4 separate regions of the Homo sapiens genome follow, and regions 1, 2 and 3 are each linked to region 4. Evidence: fine-mapped expression QTL. A gene starts in region 4. Each other region holds a variant in brackets. All regions are shown on one strand. Distances are between the middles of the regions.

Region 1 (8,000 bases), 76 kb before region 4:
ATTTCGAGGCTAGAACATTTAGAAGAAGTCTCAAGTGACAGCGTTAAGTTAAAATCAGAGATATTAGGCCTCATCGCCCTGTAATGCTTAATTAAATTTGTGCTTTTTTTTTTTAACTTGTCTTATGTCTCCCAGCCAAAGACCAGTCCTCTCAGGGGGATGAAGAGAAAGACCCTCCGAAGAGCCACCCTTATTCTGTGGAGACCCCATATGGCTTTCATTTAGACCTGGACTTCCTCAAGTATGTGGATGACATCGAGAAGGGAAACACTATCAAAAGAATTCCTATCCACAGAAGGGCCAAGCAGGCCAAATTTAGCACTCTGCCCCGAAACTTCAGCCTTCCTGACAGTGGGGCTCGCCCCCCTGCAGCCCCGCCCCTCCAAAACTGGTCTCCCGTGGTGCCAAGGGAGGCATCACTTGGGACACAGGAGCAAAACCAGTCACCACCGCTTGGTAATGCCCCCCAGGCCTCAACAAGCAGGAGTGAGGTGAGCTACCACAGGAAGGCTCTGTTGGCAGAGGCCACCAGACAGTTGGAAGCTGCTGAGCCAGAGGATGCCGAGCTCACTTTTGGGAGTGGACGGCCCCAGCTCTTGAGAGCATCCAGCATGCCTGCCACGCTGCTGCACAGCAGGGCTTCTGAGGAGCCAGGCCTGAGCCTGGGGCCCCCTGCCCCTCCTGCCCTCCCTCCCCTTCAGGGTGAAGGCAGTGTCTGTGATGGCACCTTTGAACCTGCAGAAGGATTGGCAGGTTTCCACAGCTCCAGCCCACGAGCATCAACTCGGATTCCAGAGCTGGTCCAGGAGGGAGCTGAGCCTCCAGAGGGTGTGGTGAAGGTTCCAAATCACCTCCCTCTCCCAGGCCCTCCTTTCTCATTCCAGAATGTGCTTGTAGTTCTAGAGGACAAGGAAGATGAACACAATGCCAGAGAAGCAGAGGTGTTGTTCACCCCTGGCTCCCCTACGCCAAGCCCGCCACCTCTGCCATCACCCATCCCTGAGAATGAGCTCCTCCTGGAAGAAATCGAGCTCAACATCAGCGAGATTCCACCCCCGCCACCTGTAGAGGTGGACATGAGAAGCATTGGCATCAGGGTAACTGAGGAAAGCCTGGGCCTTGCCAGGGTGGATCCAGGCAGCATCTCCAGCCTGAAACAGCAGGTCTCGGCCCTGGAGGGAGAGTTGTCTGGAAGAACCGAGGAACTGGCACAGGTCAGAACTGCTCTCCAGCAGCAGGAAGAGGAAATCAAAGCTAGGGAGCAAAGAATTCGAGAGCTGGAGTTCACTGTAGCCCAACTGGAAGGACAGTTTCACCAAGAGAACGCCAAAGACACTCAGGGCCAGACGGACGTGATGGTGAACACTGACCCTGTCCATGGACTCTTGACCAGGGAGTCGTGTGATAAGGGCATTGAAGTCAACCTTCTAGGCAGCATGGAGTCTGAAAGCTGGGGGCACCGAGGAGAGGAGAATGGCCTCCTATGGGGGCCAGATGGTCATAAACAAGGGAATCAGAGCCCAGCAGAACGTGTGCTTCTGCCCCAGCTGTCACTGCCACAGGGACCCGAGCAGGTCCTTACCTCCTCTGTACATAGCTTCCTCTCCACTGAACTCAGGATTGAAGAAGCAGGCACTGAACAGGAAGGAGGCCCTCAGGGAGGAACCAGGGGAGCAGGAGGCTTTCTGTGGGGCAGCGACAGAAAGACTCCCCCAGCAGGGAGGGAGGAGACCAGTTCCAATCTCCCAGGGAAGGAGCACCCGGGAAGGCCACCAAGCTCGCCAACGGATGCCACTATTGGGCAGTATGTGAAGAAGATCCAGGAGCTCCTGCAGGAGCAGTGGAACTGCCTGGAGCATGGGTACCCGGAGCTGGCCAGCGCCATCAAGCAGCCAGCCTCCAAGCTCAGCAGCATCCAGAGCCAGCTGCTGAGCTCCCTCAACCTGCTGCTGTCGGCCTACTCGGCCCAGGCTCACCCACCCAAGGAGCCACCGGCCTCCTCCTCCTCCCCGCCAGTGGGTAAATACCATCAATATAGGGGCCTGAGACAGGGAGCCATTTCTCCTTCACATGATAAGGCAGAGGGAACAAGGTTTTCAATTATATTAACATGTTTTTAAAAAGATTTTAGCAGCTGGGAGCAGTGGCTCAGGCCTGTAATCCCAGCACTTTGGGAGGCGGAGGTGGGAAGATCTCCTGAGATCAGGAGTTCAAGACCAGCCTGGTCAACATGGCGAAAACCCATCTCTACTAAAAATACAAAAATTAGCCGGGCATGGTGGCAGGAGCCTGTAATCCCAGCTACTTGGGAGGCTGAGGCAGGAGAATCACTTGAACCCAGGAGGCGGAGGTTGCAGTGAGCCGAGATCATACCACTGCACTCCAGCCTGGGTGACAGAGCAAGACTCCATCTCAAAAAAAAAAAAAAAGAAAAAAAGATTTTAGTACTTCCAGGAACCCAGTGGAATAAAAACTGATGTGTGTGACAGTGGAGGCTCGGGACCTCTACTCTTGCCTTTGCTCTAAGGTTGGGTCTGACTATGGGCCCACTGCCTACAGCTGTATGGATAGCACAGGGCACAAAGATGCCAGCCAGGGAGGGCAAATGAGAGTTGAAAGCCAGCCCACACTCCATTTGCCAAGCCTTGCGCTGCAGCACCACATCCACCCAGAGGGGGCTGTTCTCATTTGCATTGTGCAAAGGCAGTGTCTGGGGCCAAGAATGGCCCTGCTGCGTGGACTCCAGACCTCTTCCTGGGCTTTTGCATTCCTGTGTTCCTCTCTGGTTCTTGCATAGTAGAGGTTTTCTCTGGCCTGGTTTTGGAGGAGCATTATATTGATATCTGGTATAGTTCACTGAATATTTTCTCTGCGTGCATGTGTGTGTGTACGTGCATGTGTGTGTGTACAGGGGCAGGAGATTAAGTGCTGCTCACATATGGAAATGGGCCCTTCGGCTGAGCAGCACTTCCTGTTGTAACAGATCAAACCCTCTTCACTGTCGGGTAAAGTGGAACCACGTTTTGCTTTGCAGGGCAGCATGCGAGTCTGCTTCCTGCCACAAATCACAATTTGACTGCTTTCTCATTGTTTCAGTGCTAGTTCTAGCCTTCCCCGTTGGGAGCCGCCTCCTGTCCTGTTGAGCACATTGCAAGATCTGTGTCCTTGCTCGTGTATCTACTGTGAGCACGGTGTCATCACCACCCCCACAACCCTAGTGTCAGTATGCACTTGTGAGCCAGGAAGGACCACTGAGGTGCCCTTGAGCAGAAGTGGGTGCTAGACCATGAGTCCAGAGGCCTACGTTCTGCTCCTACACTCCCATTCACTGAGCAAGTCTGGGCCTCAGATTTCCCAGCTGTAAGACAGGGACAACAATGGCACCTACGCCACATGGTTCTTCATCCACACTTAGAGGGGCATTGTTAACAGAGACAGTTCTCCCAACATTGAGCAGAAAGCAAGGCTCCTCCAAGAGGTCCCCAAAACATTGATTTACATGATCTGGTTCCCTGTCCCTCCTTACCTCTCCACACACCTGCAACCCTTGTCCCCTCAAAGCAATATCCTGGTTTTGCTACATTCCCATGCATCCCCAAGATCATTCTAACCTGTGATGTTGTGTCTGCCTAGAGATCTCCCCATCGACCAGCCTTAAATCCATAATGAAAAAGAAAGACTATGGCTTCCGTGCAGGAGGTAATGGGACCAAAAAGAACCTTCAGTTTGTTGGGGTTAACGGTGGGTAAGCATCGCTTGTGAAGCTCAGACTGCCTTTCTTGCTACCTCTCCTGCTATTGTCCTTTGCACTCTCTTTTCCTAGGGGGAGGCATCTGGTTTTCATTCCTCTTCAAGGGAATTAATTTCAATGGCCCTTTAAAACTCCATCTCGGGTTTGCATGCGTTTGGCTTCTTGCCAGCTGTGGTGGTCTGTTGGAACCTCTGCTTTTAATATGTCTTGGCTTTGGTCTTCCCCAGGGCCAGGACTCCAGGTGGCTTCTGGGAGTTTTGGGGGTATACGGGCCCTTAGAGGAAGACATTTAACCTGAACCATAAAACTGAAACTAGTACAAATTCTGTTAATTCGTGGAACTTCAAATTTCATCCATTTAATTTTTTTCTTTCTTTAACTTCCTGCAAGCCAAACCCAAGTGTTTGGGGATGAAGAAAAACAACTAGACTATTGGCTTAGAACATGAACAAAACCTCATATATTCTATAGAATTGAATGTTTGATTTAGAATATTTTCTAAATCAGTCATTCAACAAACATTTATTAAATGCCAACAGTGTGCTCGGTCGTGGAGATTAAAAAGTCAAATAAATAAAGGTCTCTGCCTTTAGCTCACAGATAACAGAAATAAAGATGAAATGCTGATGTGCTGAGATAAGTTTTGTTAGGTGAGGAAGCACAGGATGCTGTGGAAGCCCAAACCCTGAAGGCTGCCCAGAGAGCTCAGAATCCCTGCTAATTTGAGTCACACCAGAAGGGAAGACATTAGACGCCAACAAGGGGAAACATCAGAAATGATGAACTGGGGCCAGTCGCTGTGGCTCATGCCTGTAATCCCAGCGCTTTGGGAGGCTCAGGTGGACAGATCACCTGAGGCCAGGATTTCAAGATCAGCCTGGCCAACATGGTGAAACCCCATCTCTACTAAAAATACAAAATTAGTTGGGTGTGGGGACATGCACCTG[C/T]AGTCCCAGCTACTCAGGAGGCTGAGGCAGGAGAATCGCTTGAATCCAGGAGGCAGAGGTTGCAGTGAGCCGCCGAGATTGTGCCACTGCATTCCATCCTGGGTGACAGAGCGAGACTCAGTCTTAAAAAAAAAAAAAGCAAAGCAAAGAAAAAAAATGATGAACTGGGTGTCACAGGAGGGTTGCTGTTCCCACTTCCACTAACATCTGACACGGGATCATGTGCTTTCACAGTTCATGTACAGAAAAGGAGAATCAGCCTAATCTCAAAGCCTAGTATAGGTCACGTCTCTCCCCAGCTGAAACGCCCCCAATGGTCCCCACTCTGCATCCAAATGTGGAAGAACCAAATCATGGCTCTGCCCAGCCTTAGCCCCTGCCACTGCCGTTCCTTCCCTCCCTCCAACAGGCTGAGGTCAGGCCCATCTCAGGGCCCTGGCACTTGCTGTTTCCCTGCTAAAGGCCTCCTCTCCTGGACATTCCTCAGCATTTGTTACTCCAGTACAGTGATTCTCAGCCTTGGTTGCACGCTGGAAACACCAGGGGAGCTTTTAAAACATCCCAGTGTCTGAATCCTTTCCCTGAACACTCTGGTTTAATTAGTCTTTGTGCAGTCCACATACTGGGAATTCTAAACACCCTCAAATGATTCTAATGTACCACTAAGGTTAGGAACTTCTGCTCTAATTAAAGTAGCCACTCCTCTTATCCTTCTATCCCATGGCTCTTTTTTTTTAAATTTTATTCATTGTTTTTATCACTACCTAAATATAATATTTGTTTACATGTTCATTTTCTGACTCTACCTTCTAGAATATAAGCTCCACTAGGGCAGGGACTTTGGTATAGGATTTAGAACTGCGCCTGGCATATAGTAGGTGCTCAATAAATTCCTGTTGAATGAATAAGTGAACTTCCAGGCAAAGTTTTTATGGAAGCAGTTCCAAGATGAGCACTGTTTGGTAAATGTAATATGCCCTCCACTCTCTTAATCACAAACATGAAAGGCTGTTCCATACATAATAGAGGAAGAAATGTCTGGGGTTTAAGTGAGACAGAATGCAAGCATAGCAGGGAGCAGACTCAGTTTACAAATCCATTGAGCACAGGGGCTTATGTAGAGGCCACCATTCAGAGAAGGGTCCTTAGGGGGTTCAATGGAGGCCATGGCCACCAGTCTCTGTGGCTGTGTCCAATGGCCCAAGAACCTGAAATCATCTTACCACCAGCATTCTCCATTAGGGATCTCCTGTTGAATATCAGTAGAGGAGTCAATAAATCTTCCAGGACTTTCCTCCATGGCCTCTGGTCTGCCAACTCAACAGAGTCACTTATAATTGAGCATAAGCGTCACTACCAGGAAAGAGGGCCACGAGTCAAGTGGCCTGTGCTCTCCTTTTTGCTGCTCCAAGCAATAGTTCAAACAGGCTGCAGCAAAGACAGGCAGGTGCTGTGCTGGGGTATCCCACAGAGCACTGGATGTAGGTGTGGAGGAGTTCATGCCTTGCCAAGTGCAAGCTGGGCTGGAGCAGTCTGAAGGGAGGTCTCGGTCTCATCCAGAGATGTGAAGATTTGCAGGCAACTTGGTGAATTCAGGGTGGAGGTGGGGATGTTTGGCTAGAGTTGGGCCCCTCTCCGGACCTAACGTTAGGATTGCACAAGCAAATGCTTTCATGAGAACGCTGGATGGCCTGTCTAGATCACCGAACGCATCAGCCAGTGAGGGGACAGGCTGCTCGTGGGTTTGCTGCAATGAGCACAGTTAATTATTTTGACAATAAGCACAGTTAATTGAGTCTCCCCAAATAGCCTCTCTGCACCAGAGCCAGGGCCCTTTACTGCATGTCTTTCTGACACCAAGATTCCTGGGAGCCTGTCACCCTGCCGGCAGGTGTAGAGAGTGGGGGAGGAGATTAGCAAGCTGCGGAGTGTTACCCGAGGCCCACCCAGCTCTCACTGGTGTTGACATGGGCACTGGGCAGGAAAGACAGGACGAGTGACCTTTGTTTTCTACCCCAGGTATGAGACCACCTCAAGTGAGGAGACCAGCGGTGAGGACAGCACCCCAGAGGACTTGTCTGACAGCGAGGCAGAGAAGAAGTGTGACGGCCCAGATCACAAGCATGTCAAAGATGCCCATCTCACCTGCGAGGCTGGGCAGGGCATCCCTGAGGGCACCTGCCATGCTGCCCAGGAAAGTGGGCCTGGGGAAGAAGTCCCCCACTCCAAGGCCGAGAGGTGAGCAAATGGACACAAACGCGGGCACTTGTTCCTCTGAAAAAGGTCAAGGGCATATATCTACCCGTTCATGCGATCATTTGTTCATTCATGTACCCATCCATTTGCCAGTGTTGTTTAAGTCTCTGTTTCATGCCCACACTGTGCACTGGTTGAATAAAGTAGATATATGGCTCCTGCTTTCGTGGAATGTACTGTCACAGCCGATATCTACCTGTAAAGTCAACATTTACCTAGTGCTGAAACTGTGAAGGACTTTACAAGTATTATCCTATATACACAACTTCCAACAGTCCTGCAGGACAGAAGTTATTGTGACCTCCCCACTCTACAGTTGTGGAAACAGAGACTTAGGGAAGTGTGGGGACGCAGCTAGCAGAATAGGGACCCTGGCCCCAGTCCTTCTCATTGTTACCCATAAGCTTTTCTGCCTGTCCTGTTGACCATGCTGGCTTTTAAAGTGATGTGTCTTTTTTTTTTTTTTTGAGACGGAGTCTTGCACTGTCACCCGGGCTGGAGTGAAGTGGCACGATCTCGGCTCACTGCAACCTCTGCCTCTTGGGTTCAAGTGAGTCTCCTGCCTCAGTCTCCTGAGTAGCTGGGACTACAGGTGCTCACCACCATCCTCAGCTATTTTTTTGTATTTTTTAGTAGAGACGAGGTTTCACTATGTTGGCCAGGCTGATCTTGAACACCTGACCTTGTGATCCACCCGCCTCAGCCTCCCAAAGTGCTGGGATTATAGGCATGAGCTACCGTGCCTGGCTGGTGATGTGTCTTTTAAAGTGATGGGAGCAGCCAGGCACCACAGCTTATAGCTGTAATCCCAGCAGTTTGGGAGGCTGAGATGGGAGGATCCCTTGAGGTTAGGAGTTTGAGCCCAGCAGTGCCCTTAAGCCTCACCTGAGGCCTCTTGGTGCTGAGCCTGCCTTCAGATCAACACAGGAAGAGTGCTTGTCACTGTGGACACCCAGCTTCAACGAGTCTCATATTACTGACTCTGTTAGTACTTACGGTGTCCTTCATGGAAGAATAACCTGAAGAAAGTTTCTGGTATGGATTGG
Region 2 (8,139 bases), 27 kb before region 4:
TAAAAATACAAAAATTAGCTGGGCGTGGTGGTGCACGCCTATAATCCCAGCTACTCGGGAGGCAGAGGTTGCAGTGAGCAGAGATTGTGCCATTGCACGCTAGCCTGGGCAACAAGAGTGAAACTCTATCTCAAAAAAAAAAAAAAAAAAGAATAATACACAAGATCAAGTGGAGTTTATTCCAGAAATTGAAGAATCAAAGATGGTGCTATATTAAGAAATTTTGGGCCACACGCAGTGGCTCACGCCTGTAATCTGGCACTTTGGGAGGCCAAGGCGGGCAGATCACTTGAGGTCAGGAGTTTGAGACCAGTCTGGCCAACATAGCGAAACCCTGTCTCTACATTAAAAAAAAAAAAAAAAAAAAACTTAGCTGAGTGTGGTAGCGGGTGTCTGTAATCCTAGCTACTTGAGAGGCTGAGGCAGGAGAATCACTCGAACCGAGACAGAGGTTGCAATGAGCTAAGATCGCATCACTGGACTCCAGCCTGGAGGACCGAGTGAGACTCCGTCTCAAAAAAAAAGAAAGAAATTTTGTAATGTAATTATTAAGTCAAAAGAGAAACTATATATATAATCACCTTTATTAATGTTGAAAATACATTTAGTCTGGGAGTGATGGCTCACACCTGTAATCTCAGCACTTTGGGAGACCAAGGTGGGCGGATCACTTGAGGTCAGGAGTTCAAGACCAGCATGGTCAACATGGCGAAACCTCATCTTTACTAAAAATACAAAAATTAGCCTGGCATGATGGGATGCGCCTGTAATTCCAGCTACTAGGGAGGCTGAGGCCCGAGAATCGCTTGAACCCAAGAGGCAGAGATTGCAGTGAGCCGAGATTACACCACTACACTCCAGCCTTGGTGACAGAGTGAGACCTTGTCTCAAAAAACCAAAAAAAAAAAAAAACAACGAAAATACCTTTTGGCCAGGCGTGGTGTCTCACGCCTGTAATCCCAGCAGTTTGGGAGGCCGAGGTGGGCAGATCACTTGAGGTCACGAGTTCGAGATCAGCCTGTCCAATGTGGTGAAACCCTCTCTCTACTAAAAATACAAAAATCCATCATGGCTAACACGGTGAAACCCTGACTCTACTAAAAATACAAAAAATTAGCTGGGCGTGGTGGGGTGCATCTATAGTTCCAGCTACTCAGGACGCTGAGGCAGGAGAATCGCTTGAACCCGGGAGGCAGAGGTTGCAGTGAGCCAAGATCACGCCACTGCACTCCAGCCTGGGTGACAGAGCGAGACTCCGTCTCAAAATACATACAAAAATTAGCCAGGTGTGGTGGCAGGCGCCTGTAATCCCAGCTATTTGGGAGGCTGAGGCAGGAGAATTGCTTGAACCTGGGAGATGGAGGTTGCAGTGAGCCGAGATCGCGCCACTGCACTCCAGCCTGGGTGACAGTGCAAGACTTTGTCTCAAAAAAAAAAAAAAAGAAAATACATTTCACAGCTGGGCGCGGTGGCTCACGCCTGTAATCCCAGCACTTTGGGAGGCCGAGGCGGGCGAATCGCCTGAGGTCAGGAGTTTGAGACCACCCTGGCCAGCGTGGTGAAACCCCGTCTCTACCAAAAATACAAAAATTAGCTGGGCATGGTGGCAGGTGCCTATAATCCCAGCTACTCGGGAAGCTGAGGCAGGAGAATCGCTTGAACCCGGGAGGCGGAGGTTGCAGTGAGCCGAGATTGCACCACTGCACTCCAGCCTGGGTGACAGAGCGAGGCTCTGTCTCAAAAAAAAAAAAAAAACAAAAAAAAACCCCAGAAAATACATTTAAATAAAATTTCTATACCCATTCCTAGTAAACTTCTCTCTTAGTCACCTCAGGCTGCTTTAAGAATGTATCATAGACTGGGTGGCTTAAACAACAGGCTGTTATTTTCTCACCATTCTGGAGGCTGGAAGTCTGAAATCAGGGTGCCAACATGGTGAGGTTCTGGTGGGGCCGTCTTCTTGGCTTGCAGACAGCTGACATCTCACTGTATGGTCACATGGCCTTTCTTTGGTGTGTGCTCATAAAGACAGAGCTCTCTGTCCCTCCTCTTATAAGGAAACTAATCCACTGCAAGGCGTCCACTATCATGGCCTGATCTAAACCTAAGTACTTCTCAAAGGCCCCACCTTCAAATACCATCACATTGGAGGTTAGGGCTACAGCATATGAATTTCGAGGGGACACAAACATTCAGTCCATAACAATCTCTTAATACATATTTACGGGTAGTTCTTTATCTTACTCTTTTATATTGATTCTTCTAAATAGAGACAGAGTCTCACTATGTTGCCCAGGCAAGTCTCAAACTCCTGCGGTCAAGTAATCTCCCAACGTTGGCCTCCCAGAGTGCTGGGATTACAGGCGTGAGCCACCGTGCCTGGCCACCTTTATTCTCTTTTTACCTCTAACAAAAAGTAAATAAAAGTAGCCGGGCGCAGTGGCTCATGCCCGTAATCCTAGCACTTTGGGAGGCCAAGGCAAGTGAATCCCTTGAACCCAGGAGTTCGAGACCAGCCTGGGCAACATGACAAAACCTCATCTCTACAACAAGTACAAAAATTACCTGGGGGTGATGGCGCACACCTGTAGTTTCAGCTACTTGGGAGGCTGAGGTGGGAGGATTGCTTAAGCCTGGGGAGGCGGAGGTAGTTGTGAGCCAAGATCGTGCCACTGCACTCCAGCCTGGGTGACAGAGCCAGACCCTGTCTCAAAATAAATAAATAAATAAATAAATAAAAGTTAAAAGAATTAGTTTGTATTTTCTATTTAATTAAAGATAAAAAGGGCTGGTTTGTATCTTTTTCTTGGAGTCTTATTTTTCCCCTTAAATTTTAACTATCATCATCTTGTCTGATGTCTGTCTTCTCATTTAATTCCATTTTTGTAACTTTTAAAAATAAATGAGGCCGGGCACAGTGGCTCATGCCTGTAATCCCAGCACTTTGGGAGGCAGAGGCGAGTGGACTGCCTGAGGTCAGGAGCTTGAGACCAGCCTGACCAACATGGTGAACCCCTGTCTCTACTAAAAATACAAAAAAAAAATTAGCTGGGCATGGTGGTGGGCGCCTGTAATCCCAGCTACTCAGGAGGCTGAGGCAGGAGAATTGCTTGAACCTGGGAGGCAGAGGTTGCAGTGAGCCAAGATCATGCAACTGTACTCCAGCCTGGGCGACAGAGTGAGACTCTGTCTCCAAAAAAAAAAAAAGGAAAAAAAAAATAAACCCCAAGCAGATATAATAAAGGACACTTCATACAAATGAATCAAAAATGAATTAAAGCCAATTAAAGAAAAAGTTGAAAACATGAAATTAGAGGGAATAAAAGATATGGTGGGTGAAATAGACCCAGTTCTTTAGCCCTGTAAAAAAATAAGATAAACCACATTTTTTTAACTTTTATTTTTTTTGGAGTCAGAGTCTCACTCTGTTGCCCAGGCTGGAGTGCA[G/C]TGGCATGATCCCGGCTCACTGCAACCTCCGCCTCCCAGATTCAAGCGATTCTCCTGCCTCAGCCTGAGTAGCTGGGATAACAAGTGTGCGTCACCATGCCCAGCTAATTTTGTATATTTAGTAGAGATGGGGTTTCACCATGTTAGCCAGGCGGATCTCGAACTCCCAACATAAGGTGATCTGCCTGCCTCCGTCTCCCAAAGTGTTGGGATTACAGGCGTAAGCCACCACGCCTGGCCTTATTTTTATGTTTTTGAGACAGGGTGTACTTCATCACCCAGACTGGAGTGGAGTGGTGTGATCACAGCTCACTGCAGCCTCGACCTCCTGGGCTCATACAATCCTCCTACCTCAGCCTCTCGAGTAGCTAGGACTACAGGCGCACATCACCACACCTGGCCAGATTTTGTAATGTATTGTGGAGACAGGGTCTCACTATATTGCCTAGGCTGGTCTTAAACTCCGGAGCTCAAGCAATCCTCCTGCTGCAGCCTCCCAAAGTGCTGGGATTATAAGCGTGAGCCCCCACGCCCAGCATAAAGCACATTTAAGGATACAAAATTCGGCCATGCGCCGTGGCTCATGCCTGTAATCCTAGCACTTTGGGAGGCCAAGGTGGGCAGATCACTTAAGGCCAGGAGTTTGAGACCAGCCTGGCCAACATGGTGAAACCCATCTCTACTAAAAATATAAAAATTAGCCAGGTGTGGTGGTGCATGCCTGTAATCCTAGCTACTCAAGAGGCTGAGGCAGGAGAATCATTTGAACCCAGGAGGCAGAGGTTGCAGTGAGCCAAGATTGTGCCATTGCACACCAGCCTGGGGGACAAGAGTGAAACTCCTTCTCAAAAAAAAAAGGCCGGGTGTGGTGGCTCACACCTGTAATCCCAGCACTTTGGGAGGCCAAGGCAGGCAGATCACGAGGTCAAGAGATCAAGACCATCCTGGCTAACACCGTGAAACCCCATCTCTACTAAAAATACAAAAAAAAATTAGCCGGGCGTGGTGGCAGGCGCCTGTAGTCCCAGCTGCTGGGGAGGCTGAGGCAGGAGAATGGCATGAACCCAGGAGGTGGAGCTTGCAGTGAGCCGAGATCATGCCACTGCACTCCAGCCTGGGCGACAGAGCAAGACTCTGCCTCAAAAAAAAAAAAAAAAAAAAGATACAAAATTAAAAGCCCAATTTGCATAGCTAGATGAGTGCAGTATGGTGGAAGTAATACAAACAGAGGTGTTCTAATCACACTAGAAGTCAACATTGAGCATCGCAAGGTACCATTTTTTTCTTCATTAAAATGTGTTTTAAATTATGCCCTTTGTTGACAGGAAGAGGTGAAAAGCCAGCTCTCTCAGTTGAGACAGTATAAATCACTAACTCTGTTTTTGAAAGTAATATGGATAATATGTAGCACAAGCCATAAAATGACCAGACCCTTTGGTCTATTAATTCCAGTCTTGCTAGCCTGTCCTACCATAAGGGTGGGGTGGAGAAGGAGGGTAGGACTAAATAAAGGAAATTCTTATTCATAAAAATTTACATTTGTATATATGGTGATTAGAAACAAAATGGCTGCAAGGTCCAATGGTTATTTTAGAGGAAAGATTTAATTTAAAAATTGGCCGGGCACAGTGGCTCACACCTGTAATCCCAACACTTTGGGAGGCCAAGTTGGACGGATCACCTGAGGTCAGGAGTTCGAGACCTGCTTGGCCAACATGGCAAAACCCCATCTCTACTAAAAATACAAAAAAAATTATCCAGCACCTGTGATCCCAGCTACTAGGGAGGCTGAGGCACAAGAATTGCTTGAACCCGGGAGGTGAAGGTTGCAATGAGTCGAGATCGCACCATTGCATTCAAGCCTGGACAACAGAGCGAGACTCTATCTCAAAACATAAATAAATAAATAATTGACTTTTAGCAGCTTTAATTGCTTATTATTATTATTTGAGATGGAGTCTCACTCTGTCGTCCAGGCTGGAGTGCAGTGGCACGATCTTGGCTCCCTGCCACCTCCACCTCCGGGTTTCAAGCGATTCTCCTGCCTCAGCTTCCCAAGTAGCTGGGATTATAGGCATGCACCACCACACCCGGCTAATTTTGTATTTTTAGTAGAGACAGGCTTTCTCCATGTTAGTCAGGCTTGTCTTAAACTCCCGACCTCAGGTGATCGGCCTCCCAAAGTGCTGGGACTATGCGCGCAAGCCACCATGCCCGGCCTACTTTTCATATTCTTATGCAAGTTAAGCAAATAATTGAAATATCCCTATTTGTTTATAGACTTGGGTCAGGATGTTGTATAATAACATCTCTAGACTTCTTCAATGTCTCATCTGAAGTGTGAGGCTCCTCAGTCCTCTTTCTCAGGTGTTCAGAGAACACAGTATTGTCCCTTTCATATAACTCAGAAGCCTTAACATTCTTTAATGTCTGGTTTTCCCACTAAGACCATAAACTCTATCAAGTCAAGGAAAGTCTTTCTTGGCATAAAAATATTTGGGCCACCGGTATTGAGTTCACATCCTCCATTGTTGCAGTGAAAGGAGAGATAGATGTCACAATCCCTAACAGCCTGGAGTTTTGCTGCCCTGTTTTTATACTACCATACAGAAAACTTAAATGTCTGCATACTGTCATTTAAAAGCTAATAATAGAGAAGTAAAAAATATGGATTTTTAAATATCTCTAAGCCCCAGCCATACTAAAGGAGAAATAATTCTCTGCATGAGTCAAGTCCTCTCTCCAGCCGGGCACGGTGGCTCACGCCTGTAATCCTAGCATTTTGGAAGGCTGAGGCAGATGGATCCCCTGAGGTCAAGAGTTTGAGACCAGCCTGGCCAACATAATGAAACCCCCTCTCTACTAAAAATACAAAAATTAACCAGGTGTAGTGGCGCATGCCTGTAATCCCAGCTACTCAGGAGGCTGAGGCAGGAGAATTGCTTGAACCCAAGGGGAGGCGGGGAGTGCGTAGGTTGCAGTGAGCCAAGATCGTGCCACTTCAGCCTGGGTGAAAGAGTGAAACTCCATCTCAAAAAACAAGTCCTCCTCTCTCCTCTAGGTTTTTTCAGGCTATTCTTTCTCTTTTTTTTTTTTTTTTTGAGACAGAGTCTCACTCTGTCGCCCAGGCTGGAGTGCAGGGGTGTGATCTCAGCTCACTGCAACTTCTGCCTCCTGGGTTCAAGCAGTTCTCCTGCCTCAGCCTGCCAGGTAGCTGGGACTACAGGCGCTCGCCACCATGCCCGACTAATTTTTGTATTTTTAGTAGAGATGGGGTTTTACCATGTTGGTCATGCAGGTCTTTAACTCCTGACTTCGTCATCCGCTCACCTCAGCCTCCCAAAGTGCTGGGATTACGGGTGTGAGCCACCACGCCCGGCAGGCTATTCTTTCTATCTGGAAGCCCTTTTTCCTGCCCTTGTTGAGCTAAGTCCTAGGATCCTTCAGGACTTGATTCAGTTATCACCTCCCTTAAGAAGTCTCCTTTCAGGCCAGGCGAGGTGGTTGCAAGAATTTGGTGATCTACAGGTACCCTCTAACTCTCTTCCTATGCTGCCTGGGACATGGCCGGGTGTAATGAGTGGCCCATGCCTGTAATCCTAGCACTTTGGGAGGCCAAGGCAGGTGGATCACTTGAGGTCAGGAGTTCGAGACCAGCCTGGCCAACATGGTGAAATCCCATCTCTACTAAAAATACAAAAGTTAGCCAGGCAGTATGGCGTGCGCCTGTAGTCCCAGTTACTGGGGAGGCTGGGGCAGAAGAATCCCTTGAACCTGGGAGGCGGAAGTTGCAGTCAGCCAAGATTTTGCCATTGCACTCTAGCCTGGGTGACAGAGCCAGACTCTATCTCAAGAAAAAAAAAAAAAAAAAAAGACAAGGACACGTGGGCTGGGAGCTTCTAAGTCCCTAGGATGTTTCTATTTCTTTACAAATCTGGTAGTAGATGGGGATGTAAAATGGTGTGGCTGCTGTAAAAAACCGTAAGGAGGTTCCTCAAAAAACTAAAAATAGGCTGGATGCAGTGACTCATGTCTGAAATCCCAGTACCTTGGGAAGCTGAGATGGGAGGATCACTTGAGCCCAGGAGGCCAAGGCTGCAGTGAGCTGTGATCATGCTACTACATAGCAGCCTTGGTGACAAAACAATACCCTGTTTAAAAAAAAAAAATTAAAAGTGGAATTACTATATGATCTGGTCTGGACAGGGTGGTTCATGCCTATAATCCCAGCACTTTGGGAGGCTGAGGCAGGTGGATCGCCTGAGGTCAGGAGTTCAAGACCAGCCTGACCAACATGGTGAAACCCCGTCTCTACTAAAAATACAAAAAAATTAGCTGGGCGTGGTGGCGCACACCTGTAATCCCAGCTACTCAGGAGGCTGAGGCAGGAGAATTGCTTGAACCTGGGAGGCGGAGGTTGCAGTCAGCTGAGATCATGCCATTGCACTCCAGTCTGGGCAACAAGAGTGAAATTCTGTCTCAAAAAATAAACAAACAAAACAAAACCATATGATCCAGCAATTCCATTTTGGGGCAAGAATTCAAAAAGATATTTACACATCCATGTTCATTACAGCATTATTCAAAATATCCAAGAGGTGAAAACCACAAAAACGTCCATCTAAAGGTGAGTACATGAAGATGTGGTATAAACATACAAAGGAATATTATGCAGCCTTTTTAAAAGAAGAT
Region 3 (8,139 bases), 200 kb before region 4:
TTAAATAACCTTCATTTATTTATCTGATCTTAGGGACTCAGGTGATAATGTGGCTCCCCTTCCTGGGTGAAAGCCTCACTATCCTTGCCCACTTTGGGTCCACTTTGGGTGATGAACCAGGTATGTGCTTGAGCCCCCTTGTACAGTGGGAGCCAGGTCTACCCTCAGGGCACAATTAACAGCTTCTTCTTTTCAAGTCTGTGTTCACTTAAAAAGTTTGAGACCCTGCCAGCCATCTTCGGCCAAGTCTACTTGACCCATTGTCAGTTAAAAAATGTGAGAGTTGGTCCAGGATGAGGCTAAATACAATGTGATTGAGAATGTTCCCTGCATGAATAGAGGCCATAAAGTCTCTTCAGGAAAAAATCAGAACTGGCACATACTCCAAGGCAATTTTCTCTAGGATACCTCTCAGCCCATGTAGCACTCTCAGTCCAGAAGCAAAGCTAATCCAGCATAAGAGGTATTGCTGTCAATCACCCTAAAGAGGAGCGGTCCAGAGAGGACCAGGATGATGGAGGGATTCAGGAGTAACCAAGAAAAAAAAAAAAAGAACACTTCAGATTGCCTCATGTGTTTAAACATCTTAGGAGATTTATACTTAGTTCCAGAGTTTGAAAATTAAATAGTGATGGTTACCTAAGAAATGGAACAAAACAAAGGCAATTATTGACAGAAAACAAAAAATTGTATCATATAAAAAATCACAACGCACTATATGGCTCATCTGGGAATAATATTTACATGGTTCTAATAATGTTAACATTGAGTATTGATCTTAGGCTGGCATGTGTTTTTATCCCCAGTATTTCCAGTTGCTGATGTCTTCCTCAAGAACACTCAAATACTAGGCGGGGCGCAGTGGCTCACGCCTGTAATCCCAGCACTTTGGGAGGCCGAGGTGGGTGGATCACCTGATGTCAGGAGTTCAAGACCAGCCTGACAAACATAGTGAAACCCCCTCTCTGCTAAAAATACAAAAATTAGCTGGGCGTGGTGGTGCACACCTGTAATCCCAGCTACTCAGGAGGCTGAGGCAGGAGAATCGCTTGAACCCAGGAGGTGGAGGTTGCAGTGAGCCAAGATCACACCACTGCACTCCAGCCTGGGCGACAGAGCAAGACTGTGTCTCAAAAAAAAAAAAAAAAAAAAAGAATACTCGAATACCATTTAGCACTTGCTGATGTTTCTCATCGAGAAATTATGTAGGCTGGCCATTCATTCTTCCCACCACCCTATGAGTCACCATGATCCTTTAACTAATGTCATAATTGGTGAAAAAAGTCTCGATTGGTGCTTTCTTTCTAAAAGGGAACTCATCCTTATATCAAAATGCATCCACTCCAGGATGGGGCGTCAGCCCATGAAGTGGGACGGCTATACTTCACACTGGGACACCCTGTGGTGTCCGTGATTGTGACTAAGTTCTGGATATGGACAACCCTGAAACATCCAGCTTTTGGAAGTGGGCTCTCCCACAGTAAAATGGACAGGAGTGGGGTGGGTGGGTGGGTGGCGTGATGTCTTCTCATCAGGATTATTTTTAACTGGGCCTTTAGGAACCTGAAAGAACCATATCAACGTTCTCTTACCACATGTGTTAGTTTCCTATGGCTGCTGTAACAGGTACTAACTTTGTGTCTTACAACACAGTTAATGATTTTATAGTTCCGAAGAAGTCTGAAATCTGTTCACCACCTTACAGTCAGGGAGGCAGCAGGGCTGTACTTGCCTGGAGGCTCTGAGGGGAGAAGTCATTTCTTTGTCTTCTCAGCTTCTAGAGGCTGTCCATTCCTTGGTGATGGCCCCTTTCATCTTCAAAGCCAACGCTGGCCTCCCTCTGACTCTGCTTCTGCTGTCAGTCCCTTCTGTGACTCTGACACTCCCACCCCTCTCGTATAAGGACCCTTGTGATGACACTGGGGGCACCCACTGGATAATCTCCCCATCTCAACATCCTTGGTTTAATCACATCTGCCAAGTCCCTTTTGCCATGTGGGATAACATTCTCCAGTTCAGTAGATTAAGACATGAACATCTTTGAGGGGCCATTTTTCTGCCTACCACACCAGGGGCTCCAGGTAGTGGGTCTGGTTGGGGGAGGTTGAAGGGGTTGGGATCAAATGGAGGGGCTATGACCACTACCTTCTCATTCTAAGTTAGAAAAATATTTAGGGTCCTTGGCCAAGGGTTTCCTTCATAGCCTGTCCTCCCAAATAGCTCCAAGCCAGGTGTCTGGATGTCATCCACACCCACCTGTGCCCTCACTTGACAAAGAGATTTGTTTAGACTTGCAATTTCACCATCTCCACAGATCTGCGGTTCTCAAAATAAATTTCTAGAGCTGCAACTCAGCCTGTTTAGCTAGCACGTCATGGAGAGTCCTGCAGTGTCTTGGGGGATAGAGATATTTAATTTGGCCCTGGCGTGTGACACCTTCTCCTTCTTACCTCCTTCCTCCTGGCCCCCAAGCTTGCATTTACTATGGCTTGTGGAGAGTTAAGAATCCCACTATCCTATCCTACTCGTGAATTGCTTGACATCAGGGCATCCTGTGCTACCAGAGCTAGATCCTTGGCAGTGCTGGGATAGCCTCAGGGTCCCCAGGGCCTGTGGCCCCACTTTGGGATGGGAAGGCAAAGAGCCCCGGGGAAGAGAGCCATGAAACCTTCCCTGCTCCCTTTCCAGGCAGAGGCCCGCCTCCCTCCTGACTTGGCTTCTTTTTCTGCATTCTCATTTGGCGTTTGACTAGTCACGTCTCTCTGTGGCAGATCAACGTGGGGACTCCCTGATGCTGGGAGAAATTTTACATTTTAAATCGCTGAGGCCCCAGGGTGATGGGAGAGCTCAGACTTCCTTCAGCTGGCACCTCTGCTACAGGAGGGATCCTGGTCCTGGGAGACAATTTTGTACCAGAGAGCACCTGGGTGGGGAGAAGGCAAAGAAGACTTGCCCTAGAGTGAAGTTTGAGGTGTTGGATACCATACTGTATTGTTTTGTTTCTGAATTAGGTTGTCTATTCCTGGCTTTAAGAGTGTAGAAAAACTCCCTGATTTTCGAGAGATTGTGAAAATTTTACCCACTGAATTGATTTAAAGAGACAGTAGAAAACAAAATAAAACTGCATTTTGATTACGTGCCATAAGTCAGGTATGCTTTGTTCAACACACCCAATACATTAATTTCCTATATGAGGGCTCAATATAAATAAATTTGCCTGCCTGCAGATTCACTAAGTGTTCTCTAACATATCATTTCTGTTAATGCTCTTTTATTTTTATTTATTTATTTATTTGGAGACGGAGTCTCACTCTGTCACCCAGGTTGGAGTGCAGTGGCGCGATCTCAGCTCACTGCAACCTCCACCTCCCAGGTTCAAGTGATTCTTCTGCCTCAGCCTCCCAAGTAGCTGAGATTGCAGGCGCCCATCACCATGCCTGGCTAATTTTTGTATTTTTAGTACAGACGGGGTTTCACCATGTTGGCCAGGCTGCTCTCGACCTCCTAACCTCAGATGATCCACCCGCCTCGGCCTCCCAAAGTGCTGGGATTACAGGCATGAGCCACTGTGCCCAGCCCCTTTTATTTTTTTATTACTATTTTATTTATTTATTTAAGACACAGTCTTGCTCTGCCGCCCAGGCTGGAGTGCAGTGGCACAATCTCAGCTCACTACAACTTCCGCCTCCCAAATTCAAGCAATTCTTGTGCCTCAGTCACCCAAGAAGCTGGGACTACAGGCATGAACCACCACGCCCAGCTAATTTTTATATTTTTAATAGAGATGAGGTTTTGCCATGTTGGCCAGGCTGGTCTCAAACTCCTGGCTTCAAGTGATCTGCCCACCTTGGCCTCCCAAAATACTGGGATTACAGGCATGAACCACTGCGCCTGGCCTTTTTTTTTACTATTAAAAAAAATTGTTTTAGAGACAAGGTCTTGCTGTTACTCAGGTTGGTCTTGAACTCCTGGCCTCAAGTGATCTTTCTGCCTCAGCCTCCCAAGTAGCTGGAATTACAGGCACTAGCCACTGCACCTGGCTTATTAACCCCTTTTAAAATTTCCCCATTGTATGCCTGTTGGGAAATGTACCGGAAACCTAATTCAAGTGTCCTCCCTTTCCAAATAGCACCCCCTCTTCCAGGCCACTTGATCACTTCAGTGGGGGACAAGGAGTAGACTGGAAGCTGGAAGGATTTCCTCCTCGCGAAACAATTGGCCAGTG[T/C]GGAAGGCCAGACCATCTGGGCCCAGCACAGAGGCTGCTTTCTTCCAAGAGGAATGCTGAGCACAGAAACACCCTGACCCTTGGCTGTTCCAATCCCTGTTAGGATCCTCTGTTCCGGGGCCCTGGAGTAGGACCTGCAGGTCAGTCCTGTTCTGTGACTGCTGACAGGACCCTGCGTCCTGATGGCTGCTTGGTCTCTTCAGACTGGGGCCTGGCATAATTTCCCTCTGCCCACCTCAGCCTGGATCACTGGCAAGGGAGCAGAGAGACTCTTGAGTAGGTCACTACTTGGACAACTGGCAGGACTGGGGTAGTCATCTCTTATTCAGTGGGCACTGCTGGGGGTCAGGCATTGTACTGGGTGCAGCACACCTCAGGTACTTTCACAGAACATTCTCAGCTGTCTCATGAGGTAGATGTTACCATCCCCATTTTGTAAGGAGACTAAAGTCCTGTCTCCATCAGGGAAGACAGGATGGCGTACTCAGAAGGTTTAATTGAAAAGAGTTTAAGGAATGGACTATTTACAAAGGTGTGGGCAGAATTAAGGGGGCTAACAAGCGATGACGGAGCCCCCAGGGGTTAGTAGCAGCTGGAAGCCATGATCACCCCCAGGCCTAAAGGGGAAGAGAAGGCAAGTCACCCCTACCAGACAAGAGCTGGGATCAGGGAGAGTGTGGGAGCACTGCAGAACCACCAGAGGGAAGGTGGCAGTGGGGAATGAACACCCTCCCGTCACCTCTGCTACCACTGCTTTCCAATGCCCAAACTCAGCTGAAAGCCAGAGGCCCAGGGCGCCTGGTGCCACAGCCCACAGAGCTCAGCCTCCCGAGAGGCCCAGGGACACTAGACGGCGCATGTCCTGAGAAATAATCTGACCAGAAGTCCTGTGCTGAGATTTAAACGCTAGTTTTCCTGAAGCCACTGCTGTCCTTCCTCCCATTGTCTACACTATCAAAAATAGCAGCTAGAAGTCAAAAAGAAAAAGAGATGGACAAGGAAATTAAAGTTCAGCTCATAGACCAGTGGCATCCAAAGTGTATTCTGAGGTACACTAGGCTCTTTTGTTGCCACATAGTTTGACAAAGGCTTTATTTCATATCTCCCAGTTGGAGCTCCGAAATGTGTTTTAGCATATTGAAGACTCTGAGATGTAATTAAGCCTAACTAATTTTCATTCTTTTCTTCAACTTAATTGACCATGAAAACTTTTTCCATTCATATAATATCATGGAGACTTTGTATTCTTTGAAACACGCTTGGGGAAGTACTGCTGTGAGCAATGGGGTTTGATGCAGGGAAAGGCTGAAGATAAATTTCGCTGCAGTGTAGCAGGTGGGTTTGAAGAGGGCAATGAGGGAGACAGGCAGATCAAGCAGAAGGCTCCTCCAGTAATCCAGGCAAGAGATGAGAAAGGCTGGAGCCTGGGAAGCAGCAAGAGGAGGGAGAAGAAGAGCCAATTCCTCCTTGGTAATGGGGCGAATGGTGAGTCATTATGCAATGGGCCGATCTGGAGGAGAATCAGACAGAGGCTGTGAGATATTCAGGCCAGTTTTTGACACATTGAGCATAAGGTGCTTTGGTATAAACAGATTTTTTAGTTGGAAATTGGGGGTGCAAGATTAGAGTTTTGGCAAATGGTTGCTGCTCAAGGTACACATTTGAAAGCCATCAACATATGGGTGATGATGGAAGCCCTGGGGGTGGTTGGCACCCCCCCAGCTGAGAAAGTAGAGCAGAGGGTCTAACTTGGCTTGAGGGTGTGAAGAAACTCCTGAAATTACTTAGGGTATTATGTGTCCATGAATATAGGCATTTTTACTTATTTATTTTAGGGATGACTCTCTCATAGCTTCTAGCATGTTTTCAAAGGTGTCCTTGAAAAAATAAGTTTAAGAACCAGTGGTGAAGAATGAGAAGAGAGGAAGATCAAGGGTAAAGTCTGCAAGAAGAGTAATCAAATAAGTCTGACACCTTTGAGCCAGAGGGGTTGGAGCAATGCAGGATGCAGGGGCCGCAGGATCCAGAGCAGAAGGAAGGATCAGCAATTTCCCGTGATCCGAGAGTCGAGTATGATTAGGTCTAGAGATAAGCCTTTGGATTTGGCAATTAGAAAGTCATTGCCTTGTCAAGAGCAGTGTCAATTTTGGGTGGAGGAGATTATAGAGGATGGAATAGTGAGTGGCTTGGGAAGAAGCTGTTGGTGTGAGAAGAGACCAAGTCCTTCAAGAGGCTTGTGGTCAGGCTGGGCACAGTGGCTCACACCTGTAATCCTGGTGCTCTGGAAGGCTGAGGTGGGAGGATCACTTGAGGCCAGGAGTTCACGACCAGCATAAGCAACACAGAGAGACCTCATCTCTACAAAAAAAATTTAAAAGTAGCTGGACAGCTGAGGTGGGAGGATCACTTTAGCCCTGGAGTTCGGGGCTACAGTAAGCTATGATCTTGCTCAATGTGTACCTTGAGCAGCAACCATTTTCTAAAACTCTAATCTTGCACCACCAATTTCCGACTAAAAAATCTCTGTTTATACCAAAGCACCTTATGCTCAATGTGTCAAAAACTGGCCTGAATATCTCACAGCCTCTGTCTGATTCTCCTCCAGATCAGCCCACTCCAGCCTGGGTGACAGAGTGAGATCCTGTCTATAAATAAAAAATTAAATAAGATGCTTGTGGTCAAAGCAGGACTAGGATTAGGTGTTTATACTGGTTTGAAATTGAGAGCAATAAAAGTTTGATATTCAGGACCCACCCCTGAAGACACTGTTTTTAAAGGGAAAATTATAACCTACATACTGAAAGACAAAATGTATCTAGGTGCATTTGGGCAGGTATAACAAACTAGCATAGACTGGGGGCTTATAAACAAAAGAAATTTATTTCTCATAGTTCTGGAGGCTGGAAAGTCTAAGATCAAGATGCCGGCAGATTTGGTGTCTGCTGAGACCTTGCTTCATGGTTCATAAATGGTCATCTTTTCACTGTGTCCTCAAATGGTGGAAGGGTAAGGGAGTTCTCTGGAGCCTTCTTTTAAAAATAAAAGGCACAATCCTATTCATGAGGATTCCACCCTCATGACTTAATCACCTCCCAAAGGCCCATCACCTCATACCAAAACCTTGGGAATTAGGTTTCAACGTATGAATTTTGGGGGGCCACAAACATCTAGTCTATAATACTGGGAAAATAAAATATATGATTCATGAAAGTTATCAACACACACACAAAAGCAGCAAGCAGATCTGGGGAGAAGAGGCTGAATAAGGATAAATGTTGAGGAGCAGAATTGATAGGACTTGCATTGAAATTGGATTTAAAAGAAGGAGAGGAGTTAGGGCTGACTTGTAGACTTTCGACTTGAGCCAGCTGGGTGAAGGGTGGTGTCTTTTACAGGGTTGAGAAAGACTGGGAGAAGAGCAGGTGAGGAGCGGAAAGCAAGATTTCTATTCCAGATGTCTTAAATCATGTGACACGTCAGAGTCCTATCAGATGCCCAAGTGGAGAGGTTAAGATAGAGATAGAGTCTGGAGCTGGGGGAGAGGATAAAGTTGGAGATAGAATTTGGGAGTCATTGTATGTGGATGGCATTTGAGCTATGGGCCTAGATGAGTTCACCTTGAAAATGAGTATAGGTAGAGGAGATGCCCAAAGACTGAGATTTAAGCACTCCTGCATTTAGAGGTTTAGAGGGAGGAGAAGGAAACTGCACTTGGCCAAATACAAGACAAAGTGATCTTCTACACTCAGGAAGAACACACTGGGAGAGGTTGCTTTCTGAGTACAGTACTCCTGAGTCTGTATTCATAACCACTGCCATAGCCACTAGGGTAGCAGTCATCTTAGCAGAATTATCTGTTCTGCATTTATTGTCAGCCCCAAGCAACTTACCCACGGTCAAAGATCATAGGAGCT
Region 4 (8,139 bases):
CTGGAGTGCAGTGGCACAATCTTGGCTCACTGCAAACTCTGCCTCCTGGGTTCAAGCGATTCTCCCGCCTCAGCCTCCTGAGTTGCTGGGACAACAGGCACACGCCACCATGCCCGGCTAATTTTTGTATTTTTAGTAGAGACGGGGTTTCACCATGTTGGCCAGGCTGGTTTCAAACTCCTGACCTCAGGTGATCCACCTGCCTCAGCCTCCCAAAGTGCTGAGATTACAAACATGAGCCACTGCTCCCAGCCTCAAATGCTAAATGCTAAATTATGATTAGCGTTTAATGACAATAAATATATGTGACCTTTTTCACATCCAAGATATCAGATACTCTGAATTCTAGCCAGACACTACCCAGGCACTCTGGGTTCAAAATCCCTGATCAAGAAGAAAGCAGAGGCTGGTACAAGTTTAGCAAATTTTGTCTCAGGGTTGGATGGTAGCCATCAAAAGGGCTCAGGGACCAGACGTCCTGGCTTCTGCCTGCAGTCCCAGCTACTTGGGAGGCTGAGGCGGTCAGATTATTTGAGCCCAGGAGTTCAAGGTTACTCTAAGCTATGATTGCATCACTGCATTCCAGCCTGGGTGACAGAGCAAGACCCTGCCAAAAAAAAAAAAGTGATTAGGGAGACCGGAGATTTTCACCAGTGTACTCCCAAGTTCTGCTTTGTATTTTAAGGAGGTTACTTTAAAAGTATACAATACAGGAGAGCACCGGTTGGAAAGGGCAAGAAATGTTTAGCACTTCCCTCAAGGGACTGGGGGTTGGGAGGGCGGATAAACTTCCTTTAATTTTAGGGATGGAAAAAAGCTTGTTGATTTGCATTGCCTTGGCTTGTGACTGCCATCTTTTCATATGTTTATCTGCTTGCATTTCCTTTGTGGTGTATTACCTTTTCAACACTGGCAGCCTGTTCTTATCGGCGGGGTGGGGCGGCGGCGGGGGGTCGGTGTGTGTGTTTTTCTGAATTTGCTGGGGGGATTATGGACTTCTCTTTTCTTCTTTTTTTTTTTTTTAAATAAGAACAATTACTAGTCCCTCACCTCAGTCTCTATTATCTGACCTCTGAGGCCACCCAAAGTTTGGTGTGGTATCTCTCACAACGTACAGGTGACTTTTGTGTTTTTGCTTTTTTTTTTGAGATCTCACTCTCGCCCAGCGTGGCAAGCAGTGGTGTGATCACTGTTCGCTGGTCACAAACTCCAGGGACCAAGTGATCCTCTCACCTCAGTCTCCTGAGGAGCTGGTATTACAGGCATGCTACCATACCAAGATAAAGTGCCTGGTTTTTATGGGTGCATGGGAGGACAATAAAGGAGAATGCCAACTTCGACTTCTAGTTAGTACGTCTCTCTCCTTGGGTATGGGGACATTTACTTTTTTTTAATAGCTTTATACTTTTAACACTATTTTCTTTTTTTCAATAGGCCATTTGTAATCTTCCAGTTATATATGCACACCTCACTCTTCTATGTGTGACATGCCATATTTTGAACATATTTTGGTTCAATAAGTAATTCCCTCAGCAGTGGGCATTCAAGTAATTTACAGGGTTTTGTTTTGTTTTGTTTTGTTTTCTTCTGTTTTTGAGACAGAGTCTCACTGTCGCCCAGGCTGAAGTGCAGGTGGCACAATCTCAGCTCACTGCAACCCCCGCTTCCCAGGTTCAAGTGATTCTCCTGCCTCAGCCTCCCGAGTAGCTGGGACTACAAGCGTGCACCACTGCACCCAGCTAATTTTTGTATTTTTAGGGATGGGGCTTCACCATGTTGGCCAGGCTGGTCTCCAGCTCCAGACCTCAGGTGATCCGCCCACCTCGGCCTCCCAAAGTGCTGGGCTGGGTGCGGTGGCTCAAGCCTGTAATCCCAGCACCTTTCGGGGCAGCAGGAGCACTTGAGGCCAGGAATTTGAGACCAGCCTGTGCAACATAGCAAAACCATCTCTAAAAAACTTTTTTAGATAATAAAAAATTTGGAATATATGAGCTTCTTAACCTACTACTAAACAAGATTGAGTAGCAGGACTAAACTATATATATATATATATATATATATATATATATATAATTTATTTTTTTTGAGAGGGCGTCTCACTCTTGCCCAGGCTGGAGTGAAATGGCAGGATCTCGGCTCACTGCAACCTCCACCTCCCAGGTTCAAGCGATTCTCCTGCCTCAGCCTCCCACGTAGCTGGGACTACAGGAGCGTGCCACCATGCCCAGCTAATTTTGGTACTTTTTAGTAGAGATGGGGTTTCGCCATGTTGGCCAGACTGGTCTCGAACTGCTGACCTTAAGTGATCTGGCCTCCTCAACCTCCCAAAGTGCTGGGATTACAGGTGTGAGCCACCACACCTGGCCCTACCTTTTAATCTTGAAGTAGTGAGAATGCAAAACCTGCAACAACTGTTATGTGAAACAAAATGTGGTTTCTAGCGATGACGAACTGTGGGTTCTGCTAATAGCACCAGACTGCAAAAGGGTCCTGACCCACACTAGATTATAAGTAGGGCTCATTTCTTTATCAGACCCAAGGTCATTTCCCTTGTTTCACTCTAAAATACCCCTCCCCAGTCCAGGCGCAGTGACTCACGCCTGTAATCCCATCACTTTAGGAGATGGAGGTGGAAGGATCACCTGAGGTCAGGAGCTCGAGACCACCCTGGCCGAATGGCAAAACCCCGTCTCTACTAAAAATACAAAAATTAGCCGGGTATAATGGCAGGCGCCTGTAATCCCAGCTACTTGGGAGGCTGAGGGAGTAGAATCGCTTGAACCCAGGAGGCGTAGGTTGCAGTGAGCGGAGATGGCACCATTGCACTCCAGCCTGGGCGACAAGAGCGAAACTCCGTCTCAAAAAATGAAATACCCCACCCCAACCCCACCCGCACACTTACCCGCCACTAATCCTACCCCTAATCCACTAAACTACTTACCAAGTCTCAGCAGTTCATCCGCCTCTGTACCTTCGCTGGGAAGACGAACTCCGCAGAGCAGGACTCGGGTCTACTCTAAGCTGTGCCTTGGTGCCTAGAATTCAAGTCAAGTTCATAACACCAAAGTTTAAGGTTTATTTAATGTAGAAAATCACCTTATATTGAAGACTGGGAAAAAAAAGCACTTATCTATGCATGTGTTTGCTTAAAAAGGCACACACAATTAGCAGAGTCTGGGGTGTAAGTCGGGAGAGGGCTGCAGGGAATGGGAGGACCCAGAGGTGGATCTGAGGAGGCCAGGGAGGGGCCGGAGAGAATGGTTTCTTCTTTGTGAGAGTTGGGGTCTATTATTATGGAAGGCACGCTTTCCTTTTGCAATTTGAACAAGAATTCGATTTGCCTAACAATCGGAGGAAATTGAAGAAAATGCAAAAGTTATTACTTCCAAATCAATTTTTCCAGTCACATAATTAAACACTTTTTTTTTTTTTTGAGACGGAGTTTCGCTCTGCCGCCCAGGCTGGAGTGTAGTGGCCCGATCTCGGCTCACTGCAACCTCCGCCTCCCCGGTTCAAGCGATTCTCCTGCCTCGGCCTCCCTAGTAGCTGGGACTACAGGCGCGAGCCAACACACCCGGCTAATTTTGTATTTTTGGTAGAGACGGGGTTTCCCAAGTTGGCCAGGATGGTCTCGATCTCCTGACCTCGTGATCCGCCCCCGCCTCGGCCTCCCAAAGTGCTGGAAAATAACACGCCCGGCCCTCCATCTTTTTTTATTTGAGACAGTTTCGCCCCTGTTGCCCAGTCTGGAGCGCAATGGCGCGATCTCGTCTCAGTGCAACCTCTGCCTCTCGGGTTCAAGCGATTCTCCTGCCTCAGCCTCCTGAGTAGCTAGGATTACAGGCATGCGCCACCACGCCTGGCTAATTTTGTATTTTTAGTAGAGACGAGGTTTCTCCATGTTGGTCAGGATGGTCTCGAACTCCGACCTCAGGTGATCCGCCCGCCTCGGCTTCCCAAAGTGCTGGGATTACAGGCGTGAGCCACTGCTCCCGGCCCCTCCATCCTTTTTCTAAAGCTAGGACTTGTCAAGCACCACCTCATTTTCTTGACTTTATTTTTTCTTCACAGAACTACTTTCATGTTTCCAATTTGGGGATAGATAAGTCTTAGGAGAGTTTTTTTCTCATTGCGCCACGGACAGTAAGGGAAAGAGCAGGGAGTCAAGTGAGGGGGCCAACTGCCTGCCCCTACCCGGGCCCCACGCACGCACCCGGATCAGCCTTGCCTGGGGCACCTCGGGCCTCACGTACCTGGGCCAGCCTTACCCGGGGCACCCCGCGCCCTTCGCGCCTGGACCAGCCTTATCCGGGGCACCCTGGACCTCACGCTCCTGGACCAGCCTTACTTGGGGCGCTGCGGACCCCACGCGCCTAGACCAGCCTTACCCGGGGCACCCCGGACCCCACGCCCCTGGACCAGCCTTACCCGGGGCACCCCGGACCCCACGCGCCTGGCCCAGCCTTACCCGGCGCGCCCCGGACCCCACGCGCCTGGGCCAGCCTTACCCAGGGCACGCCGGGCCCCATGCACCCGGGCCAGCCTTACCTGGCGAAAAAGGAATCCGCCTGGACGACTGAGGAGCGAACAAAGTGAGGATGGAGCCTTGTAACTAAGGACTGAGAGGATTCCCGATCTCTGGGGCTGGCTCCTCCCCTCCTGGTGTGTCCCAACCCCCTCTGTCTACATACCCGCGCCTCCTCCCCGGAAATCGCATTCCGCCCTAAGCAATTGCTGACTTCCATTGCTGCCCCCCGACTGAGTCCAATTCCCTCTGTCTCCACCGTGCCTCCGCTTGAACGAGCCCCACCCCTCAGACCCGACTCCAGACTCAAATCTGAATAAAGGCACCACTAAAGCGCCTCATCACCCAGGCCTGAACCCCAAGGTCACCTCATTCCTTTTCTTCAACCCTCGCAGTTAATCCATTCCTAAGTCCTTGAATTTGCCGGCGTCTCTCCAACTCCACAGCTCCAGCCCAGTCCAAGCCCCCGTTGTCTCTCACCTGGATCACTGAAATCACCTCCAACTGCTCCCTGGCCTCTCCCACGACCCCTCTGTAATCCTTCTCCCCCTCCAATACTGTTCAGTGGCTTCCTGTTTCGGTTAAATTTCTACCTTCTCATTCTATCCGGACTGCCCCTTCAACATTGTCTTAGCACTACTCTTACAACAGAAACACTCTCTTTCTGTTCCTCAAAAAACACGGAACTACCTGCCTCAGGGCCCTTGCACTGGCTGTTTCCTCTGCGAGTTATTTTTTTCTTTTTCTTTCTTTCTTTCTTTCTTTTTTTTTTTTTTTGAGACAGTCTCTGTTGCCACAGCTGGAGTGCAGTGGCATGATCTTGGCTCACTGCAACCCCGGCCTCCTGGGTTCAAGCAATTCTCCTGCCTTAGCCTCCCAAGTAGCTGGGATTACAGGAGCACGCCACCACTCCCGGAAAATTTTTGTATTTTTTTTTTTTCTTTTTGAGACAGAGTTTTCTTATGTCACCCAGGCTGGAGTGCAGTGGCGCAATCTCGGCTCACTGCAACCTCTGCCTCCTGGATTCAAGCGATTTCTCCTGCCTCAGCCTCCTGAGTAGCTGAGATTACAGGCCCATGCCACCACGCCTGGCTAGTTTTTGTATTTTTAGTAGAGGGGGGTTTCACCATGTTGGTCAGGCTGGTCTTGAACTTCTGACCTGGTGATCCGCCCACCTCAGCTTCCCAAAGTGATGGGATTACAGGCGTGCGCCACCACGCCTGGCCACCTCTTTATTTTCCCAGTTCTTTCAGGATGGCTTCTGTTCATCCTCAGGTCTCAGGTCCAATGTTAACTCCTCTAACAGGCCTCCCAGACTACCCTTTCTACAGGAGCCAAACTCCCCATATCCCAATACTCTTTTTTTGTTTTATTTTTGTTTCTTAAGAGAGGGTCTTGCTCTCTAACAGAGACTCAAAGGTTCTGGGTGGTTGGACTCCCCAGGCCTGACTTGCAAGGCTCAGGTGGAACTTGACTTGCCCAAAGTCATGCAGCTAATAAGCAAAGAAGCCTCAATATCTGGTAGTTCAGTCAATACACAGCATATGAATAAACAAAGAGAATTCGGTCTTTTGCTTTTAATCCCTTATTTCTTCTTACTGCCTAAAATCCCAGCACTTTGGGAGGCTGAGGTGGGAGGATCACTTGTTCATAGTTTAAAACAAAGATGATAACAGCCCTTTCCCGAAACAAACCCTGGGGATTTAGACTGCCTTTGCAGTACTAACAAATTAGCCACAGGATTAGAAATTATGGTTTAGGAGTCATGCAGCTGGAGGCTACAAGACTCTGACTCTCCCCAAATGGCTTCTGGGGATAAGACCACTACTGCAAAACCTAAGACCAGGGAGATATTCCACAGATATTTTGCAGATCCTGCACTTGACGGATCAGCTGGTACCACCCAGATCAATAAACTGGCTGATATGATCTTGGTGGCCCCCACCCAGGAATTGATTCAGCGCAAGAAGACAGCTTTGACTCCCTATGATTTCATCTCTGATCTGACCAATCAGCACTCCCAGCTCACTGGCTTCCCCCCTCCCACCAAGTTGTCCTTAAAAACTCTGATCCCTGAATGCTTGGGGAGATTGATTTGAGTAATAAAACTCTGGTCTCCCACACAGCCCACTCTGTGTGAATTACTCTTTCTCTATTGCAATTCCCCTGTCTTGATAAATGGGCTCTGTGTAGGCAGTGGGCAAGGTGAACCCATTGGGCAGTTACAATCACACCACTACACTCCAGCCTGGGTGACAGAGCAAGACCTTGTCTAAAAAAAAAAAAAAAAAAAACTGGGCAAGGTGGCTCAAGCCTGTAATCCCAGCACTTTGGGAGTCCAAGGCAGGTGGATCACCTGAGGTCAGGAGTTTAAGACCTGAGGTAAGCCTGGCCAATATGGTGAAACCCCATCTCTTATAAAAGTACAAATATTAGCCAGGCGTTGTGGTGTGTGCCTGTAATCCCAGCTACTCAGGAGGTTGAGGCAGGCGAATCGCTTGAACCTGGGAAACGGAGGTTGCAGTGAGCTGAGATCGTGCCACTGCACTCCAGCCTGGGTGACAGAGCAAGACCCTGTCTCAAACAAACAAAAAAAACGAAAATTTGAACACTGACTGGATATTTGATGATATTAAGAATAACTGTTGGGCTGGGCGCGGTGGCTCACGCCTGTAATCCCAGCACTTTGGGAGGCCGAGGCGGGGCGGATCACGAGGTCAGGAGATCGAGACCATCCTGGCTAAAACGGTGAAACCCCGTCTCTACTAAAAAATACAAAAAAATTAGCCGGGCGTGGTGGCCGGCGCCTGTAGTCCCAGCTACTCCGGAGGCTGAGGCAGGAGAATGGCGTGATCCCGGGAGGTGGGGCTTGCAGTGAGCCGAGATCATGACACTGCACTCCGGCGTGGGCGACAGAGCGAGACTCCGTCTCGAAAAAGAAAAAGAATAACTGTTAATTTCAGTGTAATAAGATTACTGTGATTAGATTTTTTAAAGGTTAAAGCCTTCTGTTACTTAAGATCACGTGTTCTTGGGCTCTCAGTGCAATAGAAATTGACATGAGGCTGAAGGAGTGTTCCCATACAAGGCTTGTTAGAGCTTATGCACAGACATAACGGAGAGGACTACCTGACTAACTCTGCTTTATTAGACAATCAGGGGTAGAGTATGCAGGTTGGGCTGGGCAAAGCACATGAGGGGTAGAGTATGCGGGTCAGCCTTATCTGGTTTTGATGGCTTTATTGAGTAATGGATCACCCACCTGGTGGTCTGGCGAACAGCAACAAGGCTGTAAATCAATTGTTCAGCATTTCTTCCTGAGGTGGGACACTCCACAACCTTAGTTTAATATTTAGATTTCCTAAAGCCAGTTCCCGGAATTCTTTTAAGTAAAAGGCAAGGTTAAACATTATGGGCGGGGTGCGGTGGCTCACGCCTGTAATCCCAGCACTTTGGGAGGCGGAGGCGGGCAGATCACGAGCTCAGAAGATCGAGAACATCCTGGTTAACACGGTGAAACCCCGTCTCTACTAAAAATATAAAAAAATTAGCCAGGCTTGGTGGCTGGCCCCTGTAGTCCCAGCTACTCAGGAAGCCGAGGCAGGAGAATGGCA

The links.
Region 1: its variant is fine-mapped to the expression of L1TD1 in blood mononuclear cells (TOPMed, PIP above 0.99).
Region 2: its variant is fine-mapped to the expression of L1TD1 in whole blood (INTERVAL, PIP above 0.99).
Region 3: its variant is fine-mapped to the expression of L1TD1 in tibial nerve (GTEx, PIP 0.97).

What each region holds. Positions count from the first base shown.
Region 1 is chr1:62,267,223-62,275,222 of GRCh38, reverse strand. KANK4 (KN motif and ankyrin repeat domains 4) reads left to right here. Exons shown (of 10, transcript NM_181712.5): 3 at 136-2,019; 4 at 3,634-3,745; 5 at 6,718-6,936. Among named protein-coding and RNA genes, the nearest start is that of KANK4, 48 kb to the left of the region's middle. RefSeq lists an enhancer at 6,647-7,147. The variant C/T (reference allele first, on the strand shown) is at 4,699.
Region 2 is chr1:62,218,146-62,226,284 of GRCh38, reverse strand. No RefSeq gene overlaps it. Among named protein-coding and RNA genes, the nearest start is that of L1TD1, 27 kb to the right of the region's middle. The variant G/C (reference allele first, on the strand shown) is at 3,448.
Region 3 is chr1:62,391,677-62,399,815 of GRCh38, reverse strand. No RefSeq gene overlaps it. Among named protein-coding and RNA genes, the nearest start is that of USP1, 41 kb to the left of the region's middle. The variant T/C (reference allele first, on the strand shown) is at 4,226.
Region 4 is chr1:62,191,331-62,199,469 of GRCh38, reverse strand. It overlaps L1TD1 (LINE1 type transposase domain containing 1), which reads right to left and starts at 4,621. Exons shown (of 4, transcript NM_019079.5): 1 at 4,549-4,621; 2 at 2,942-3,035. RefSeq lists enhancers at 3,766-4,621, 4,622-5,478.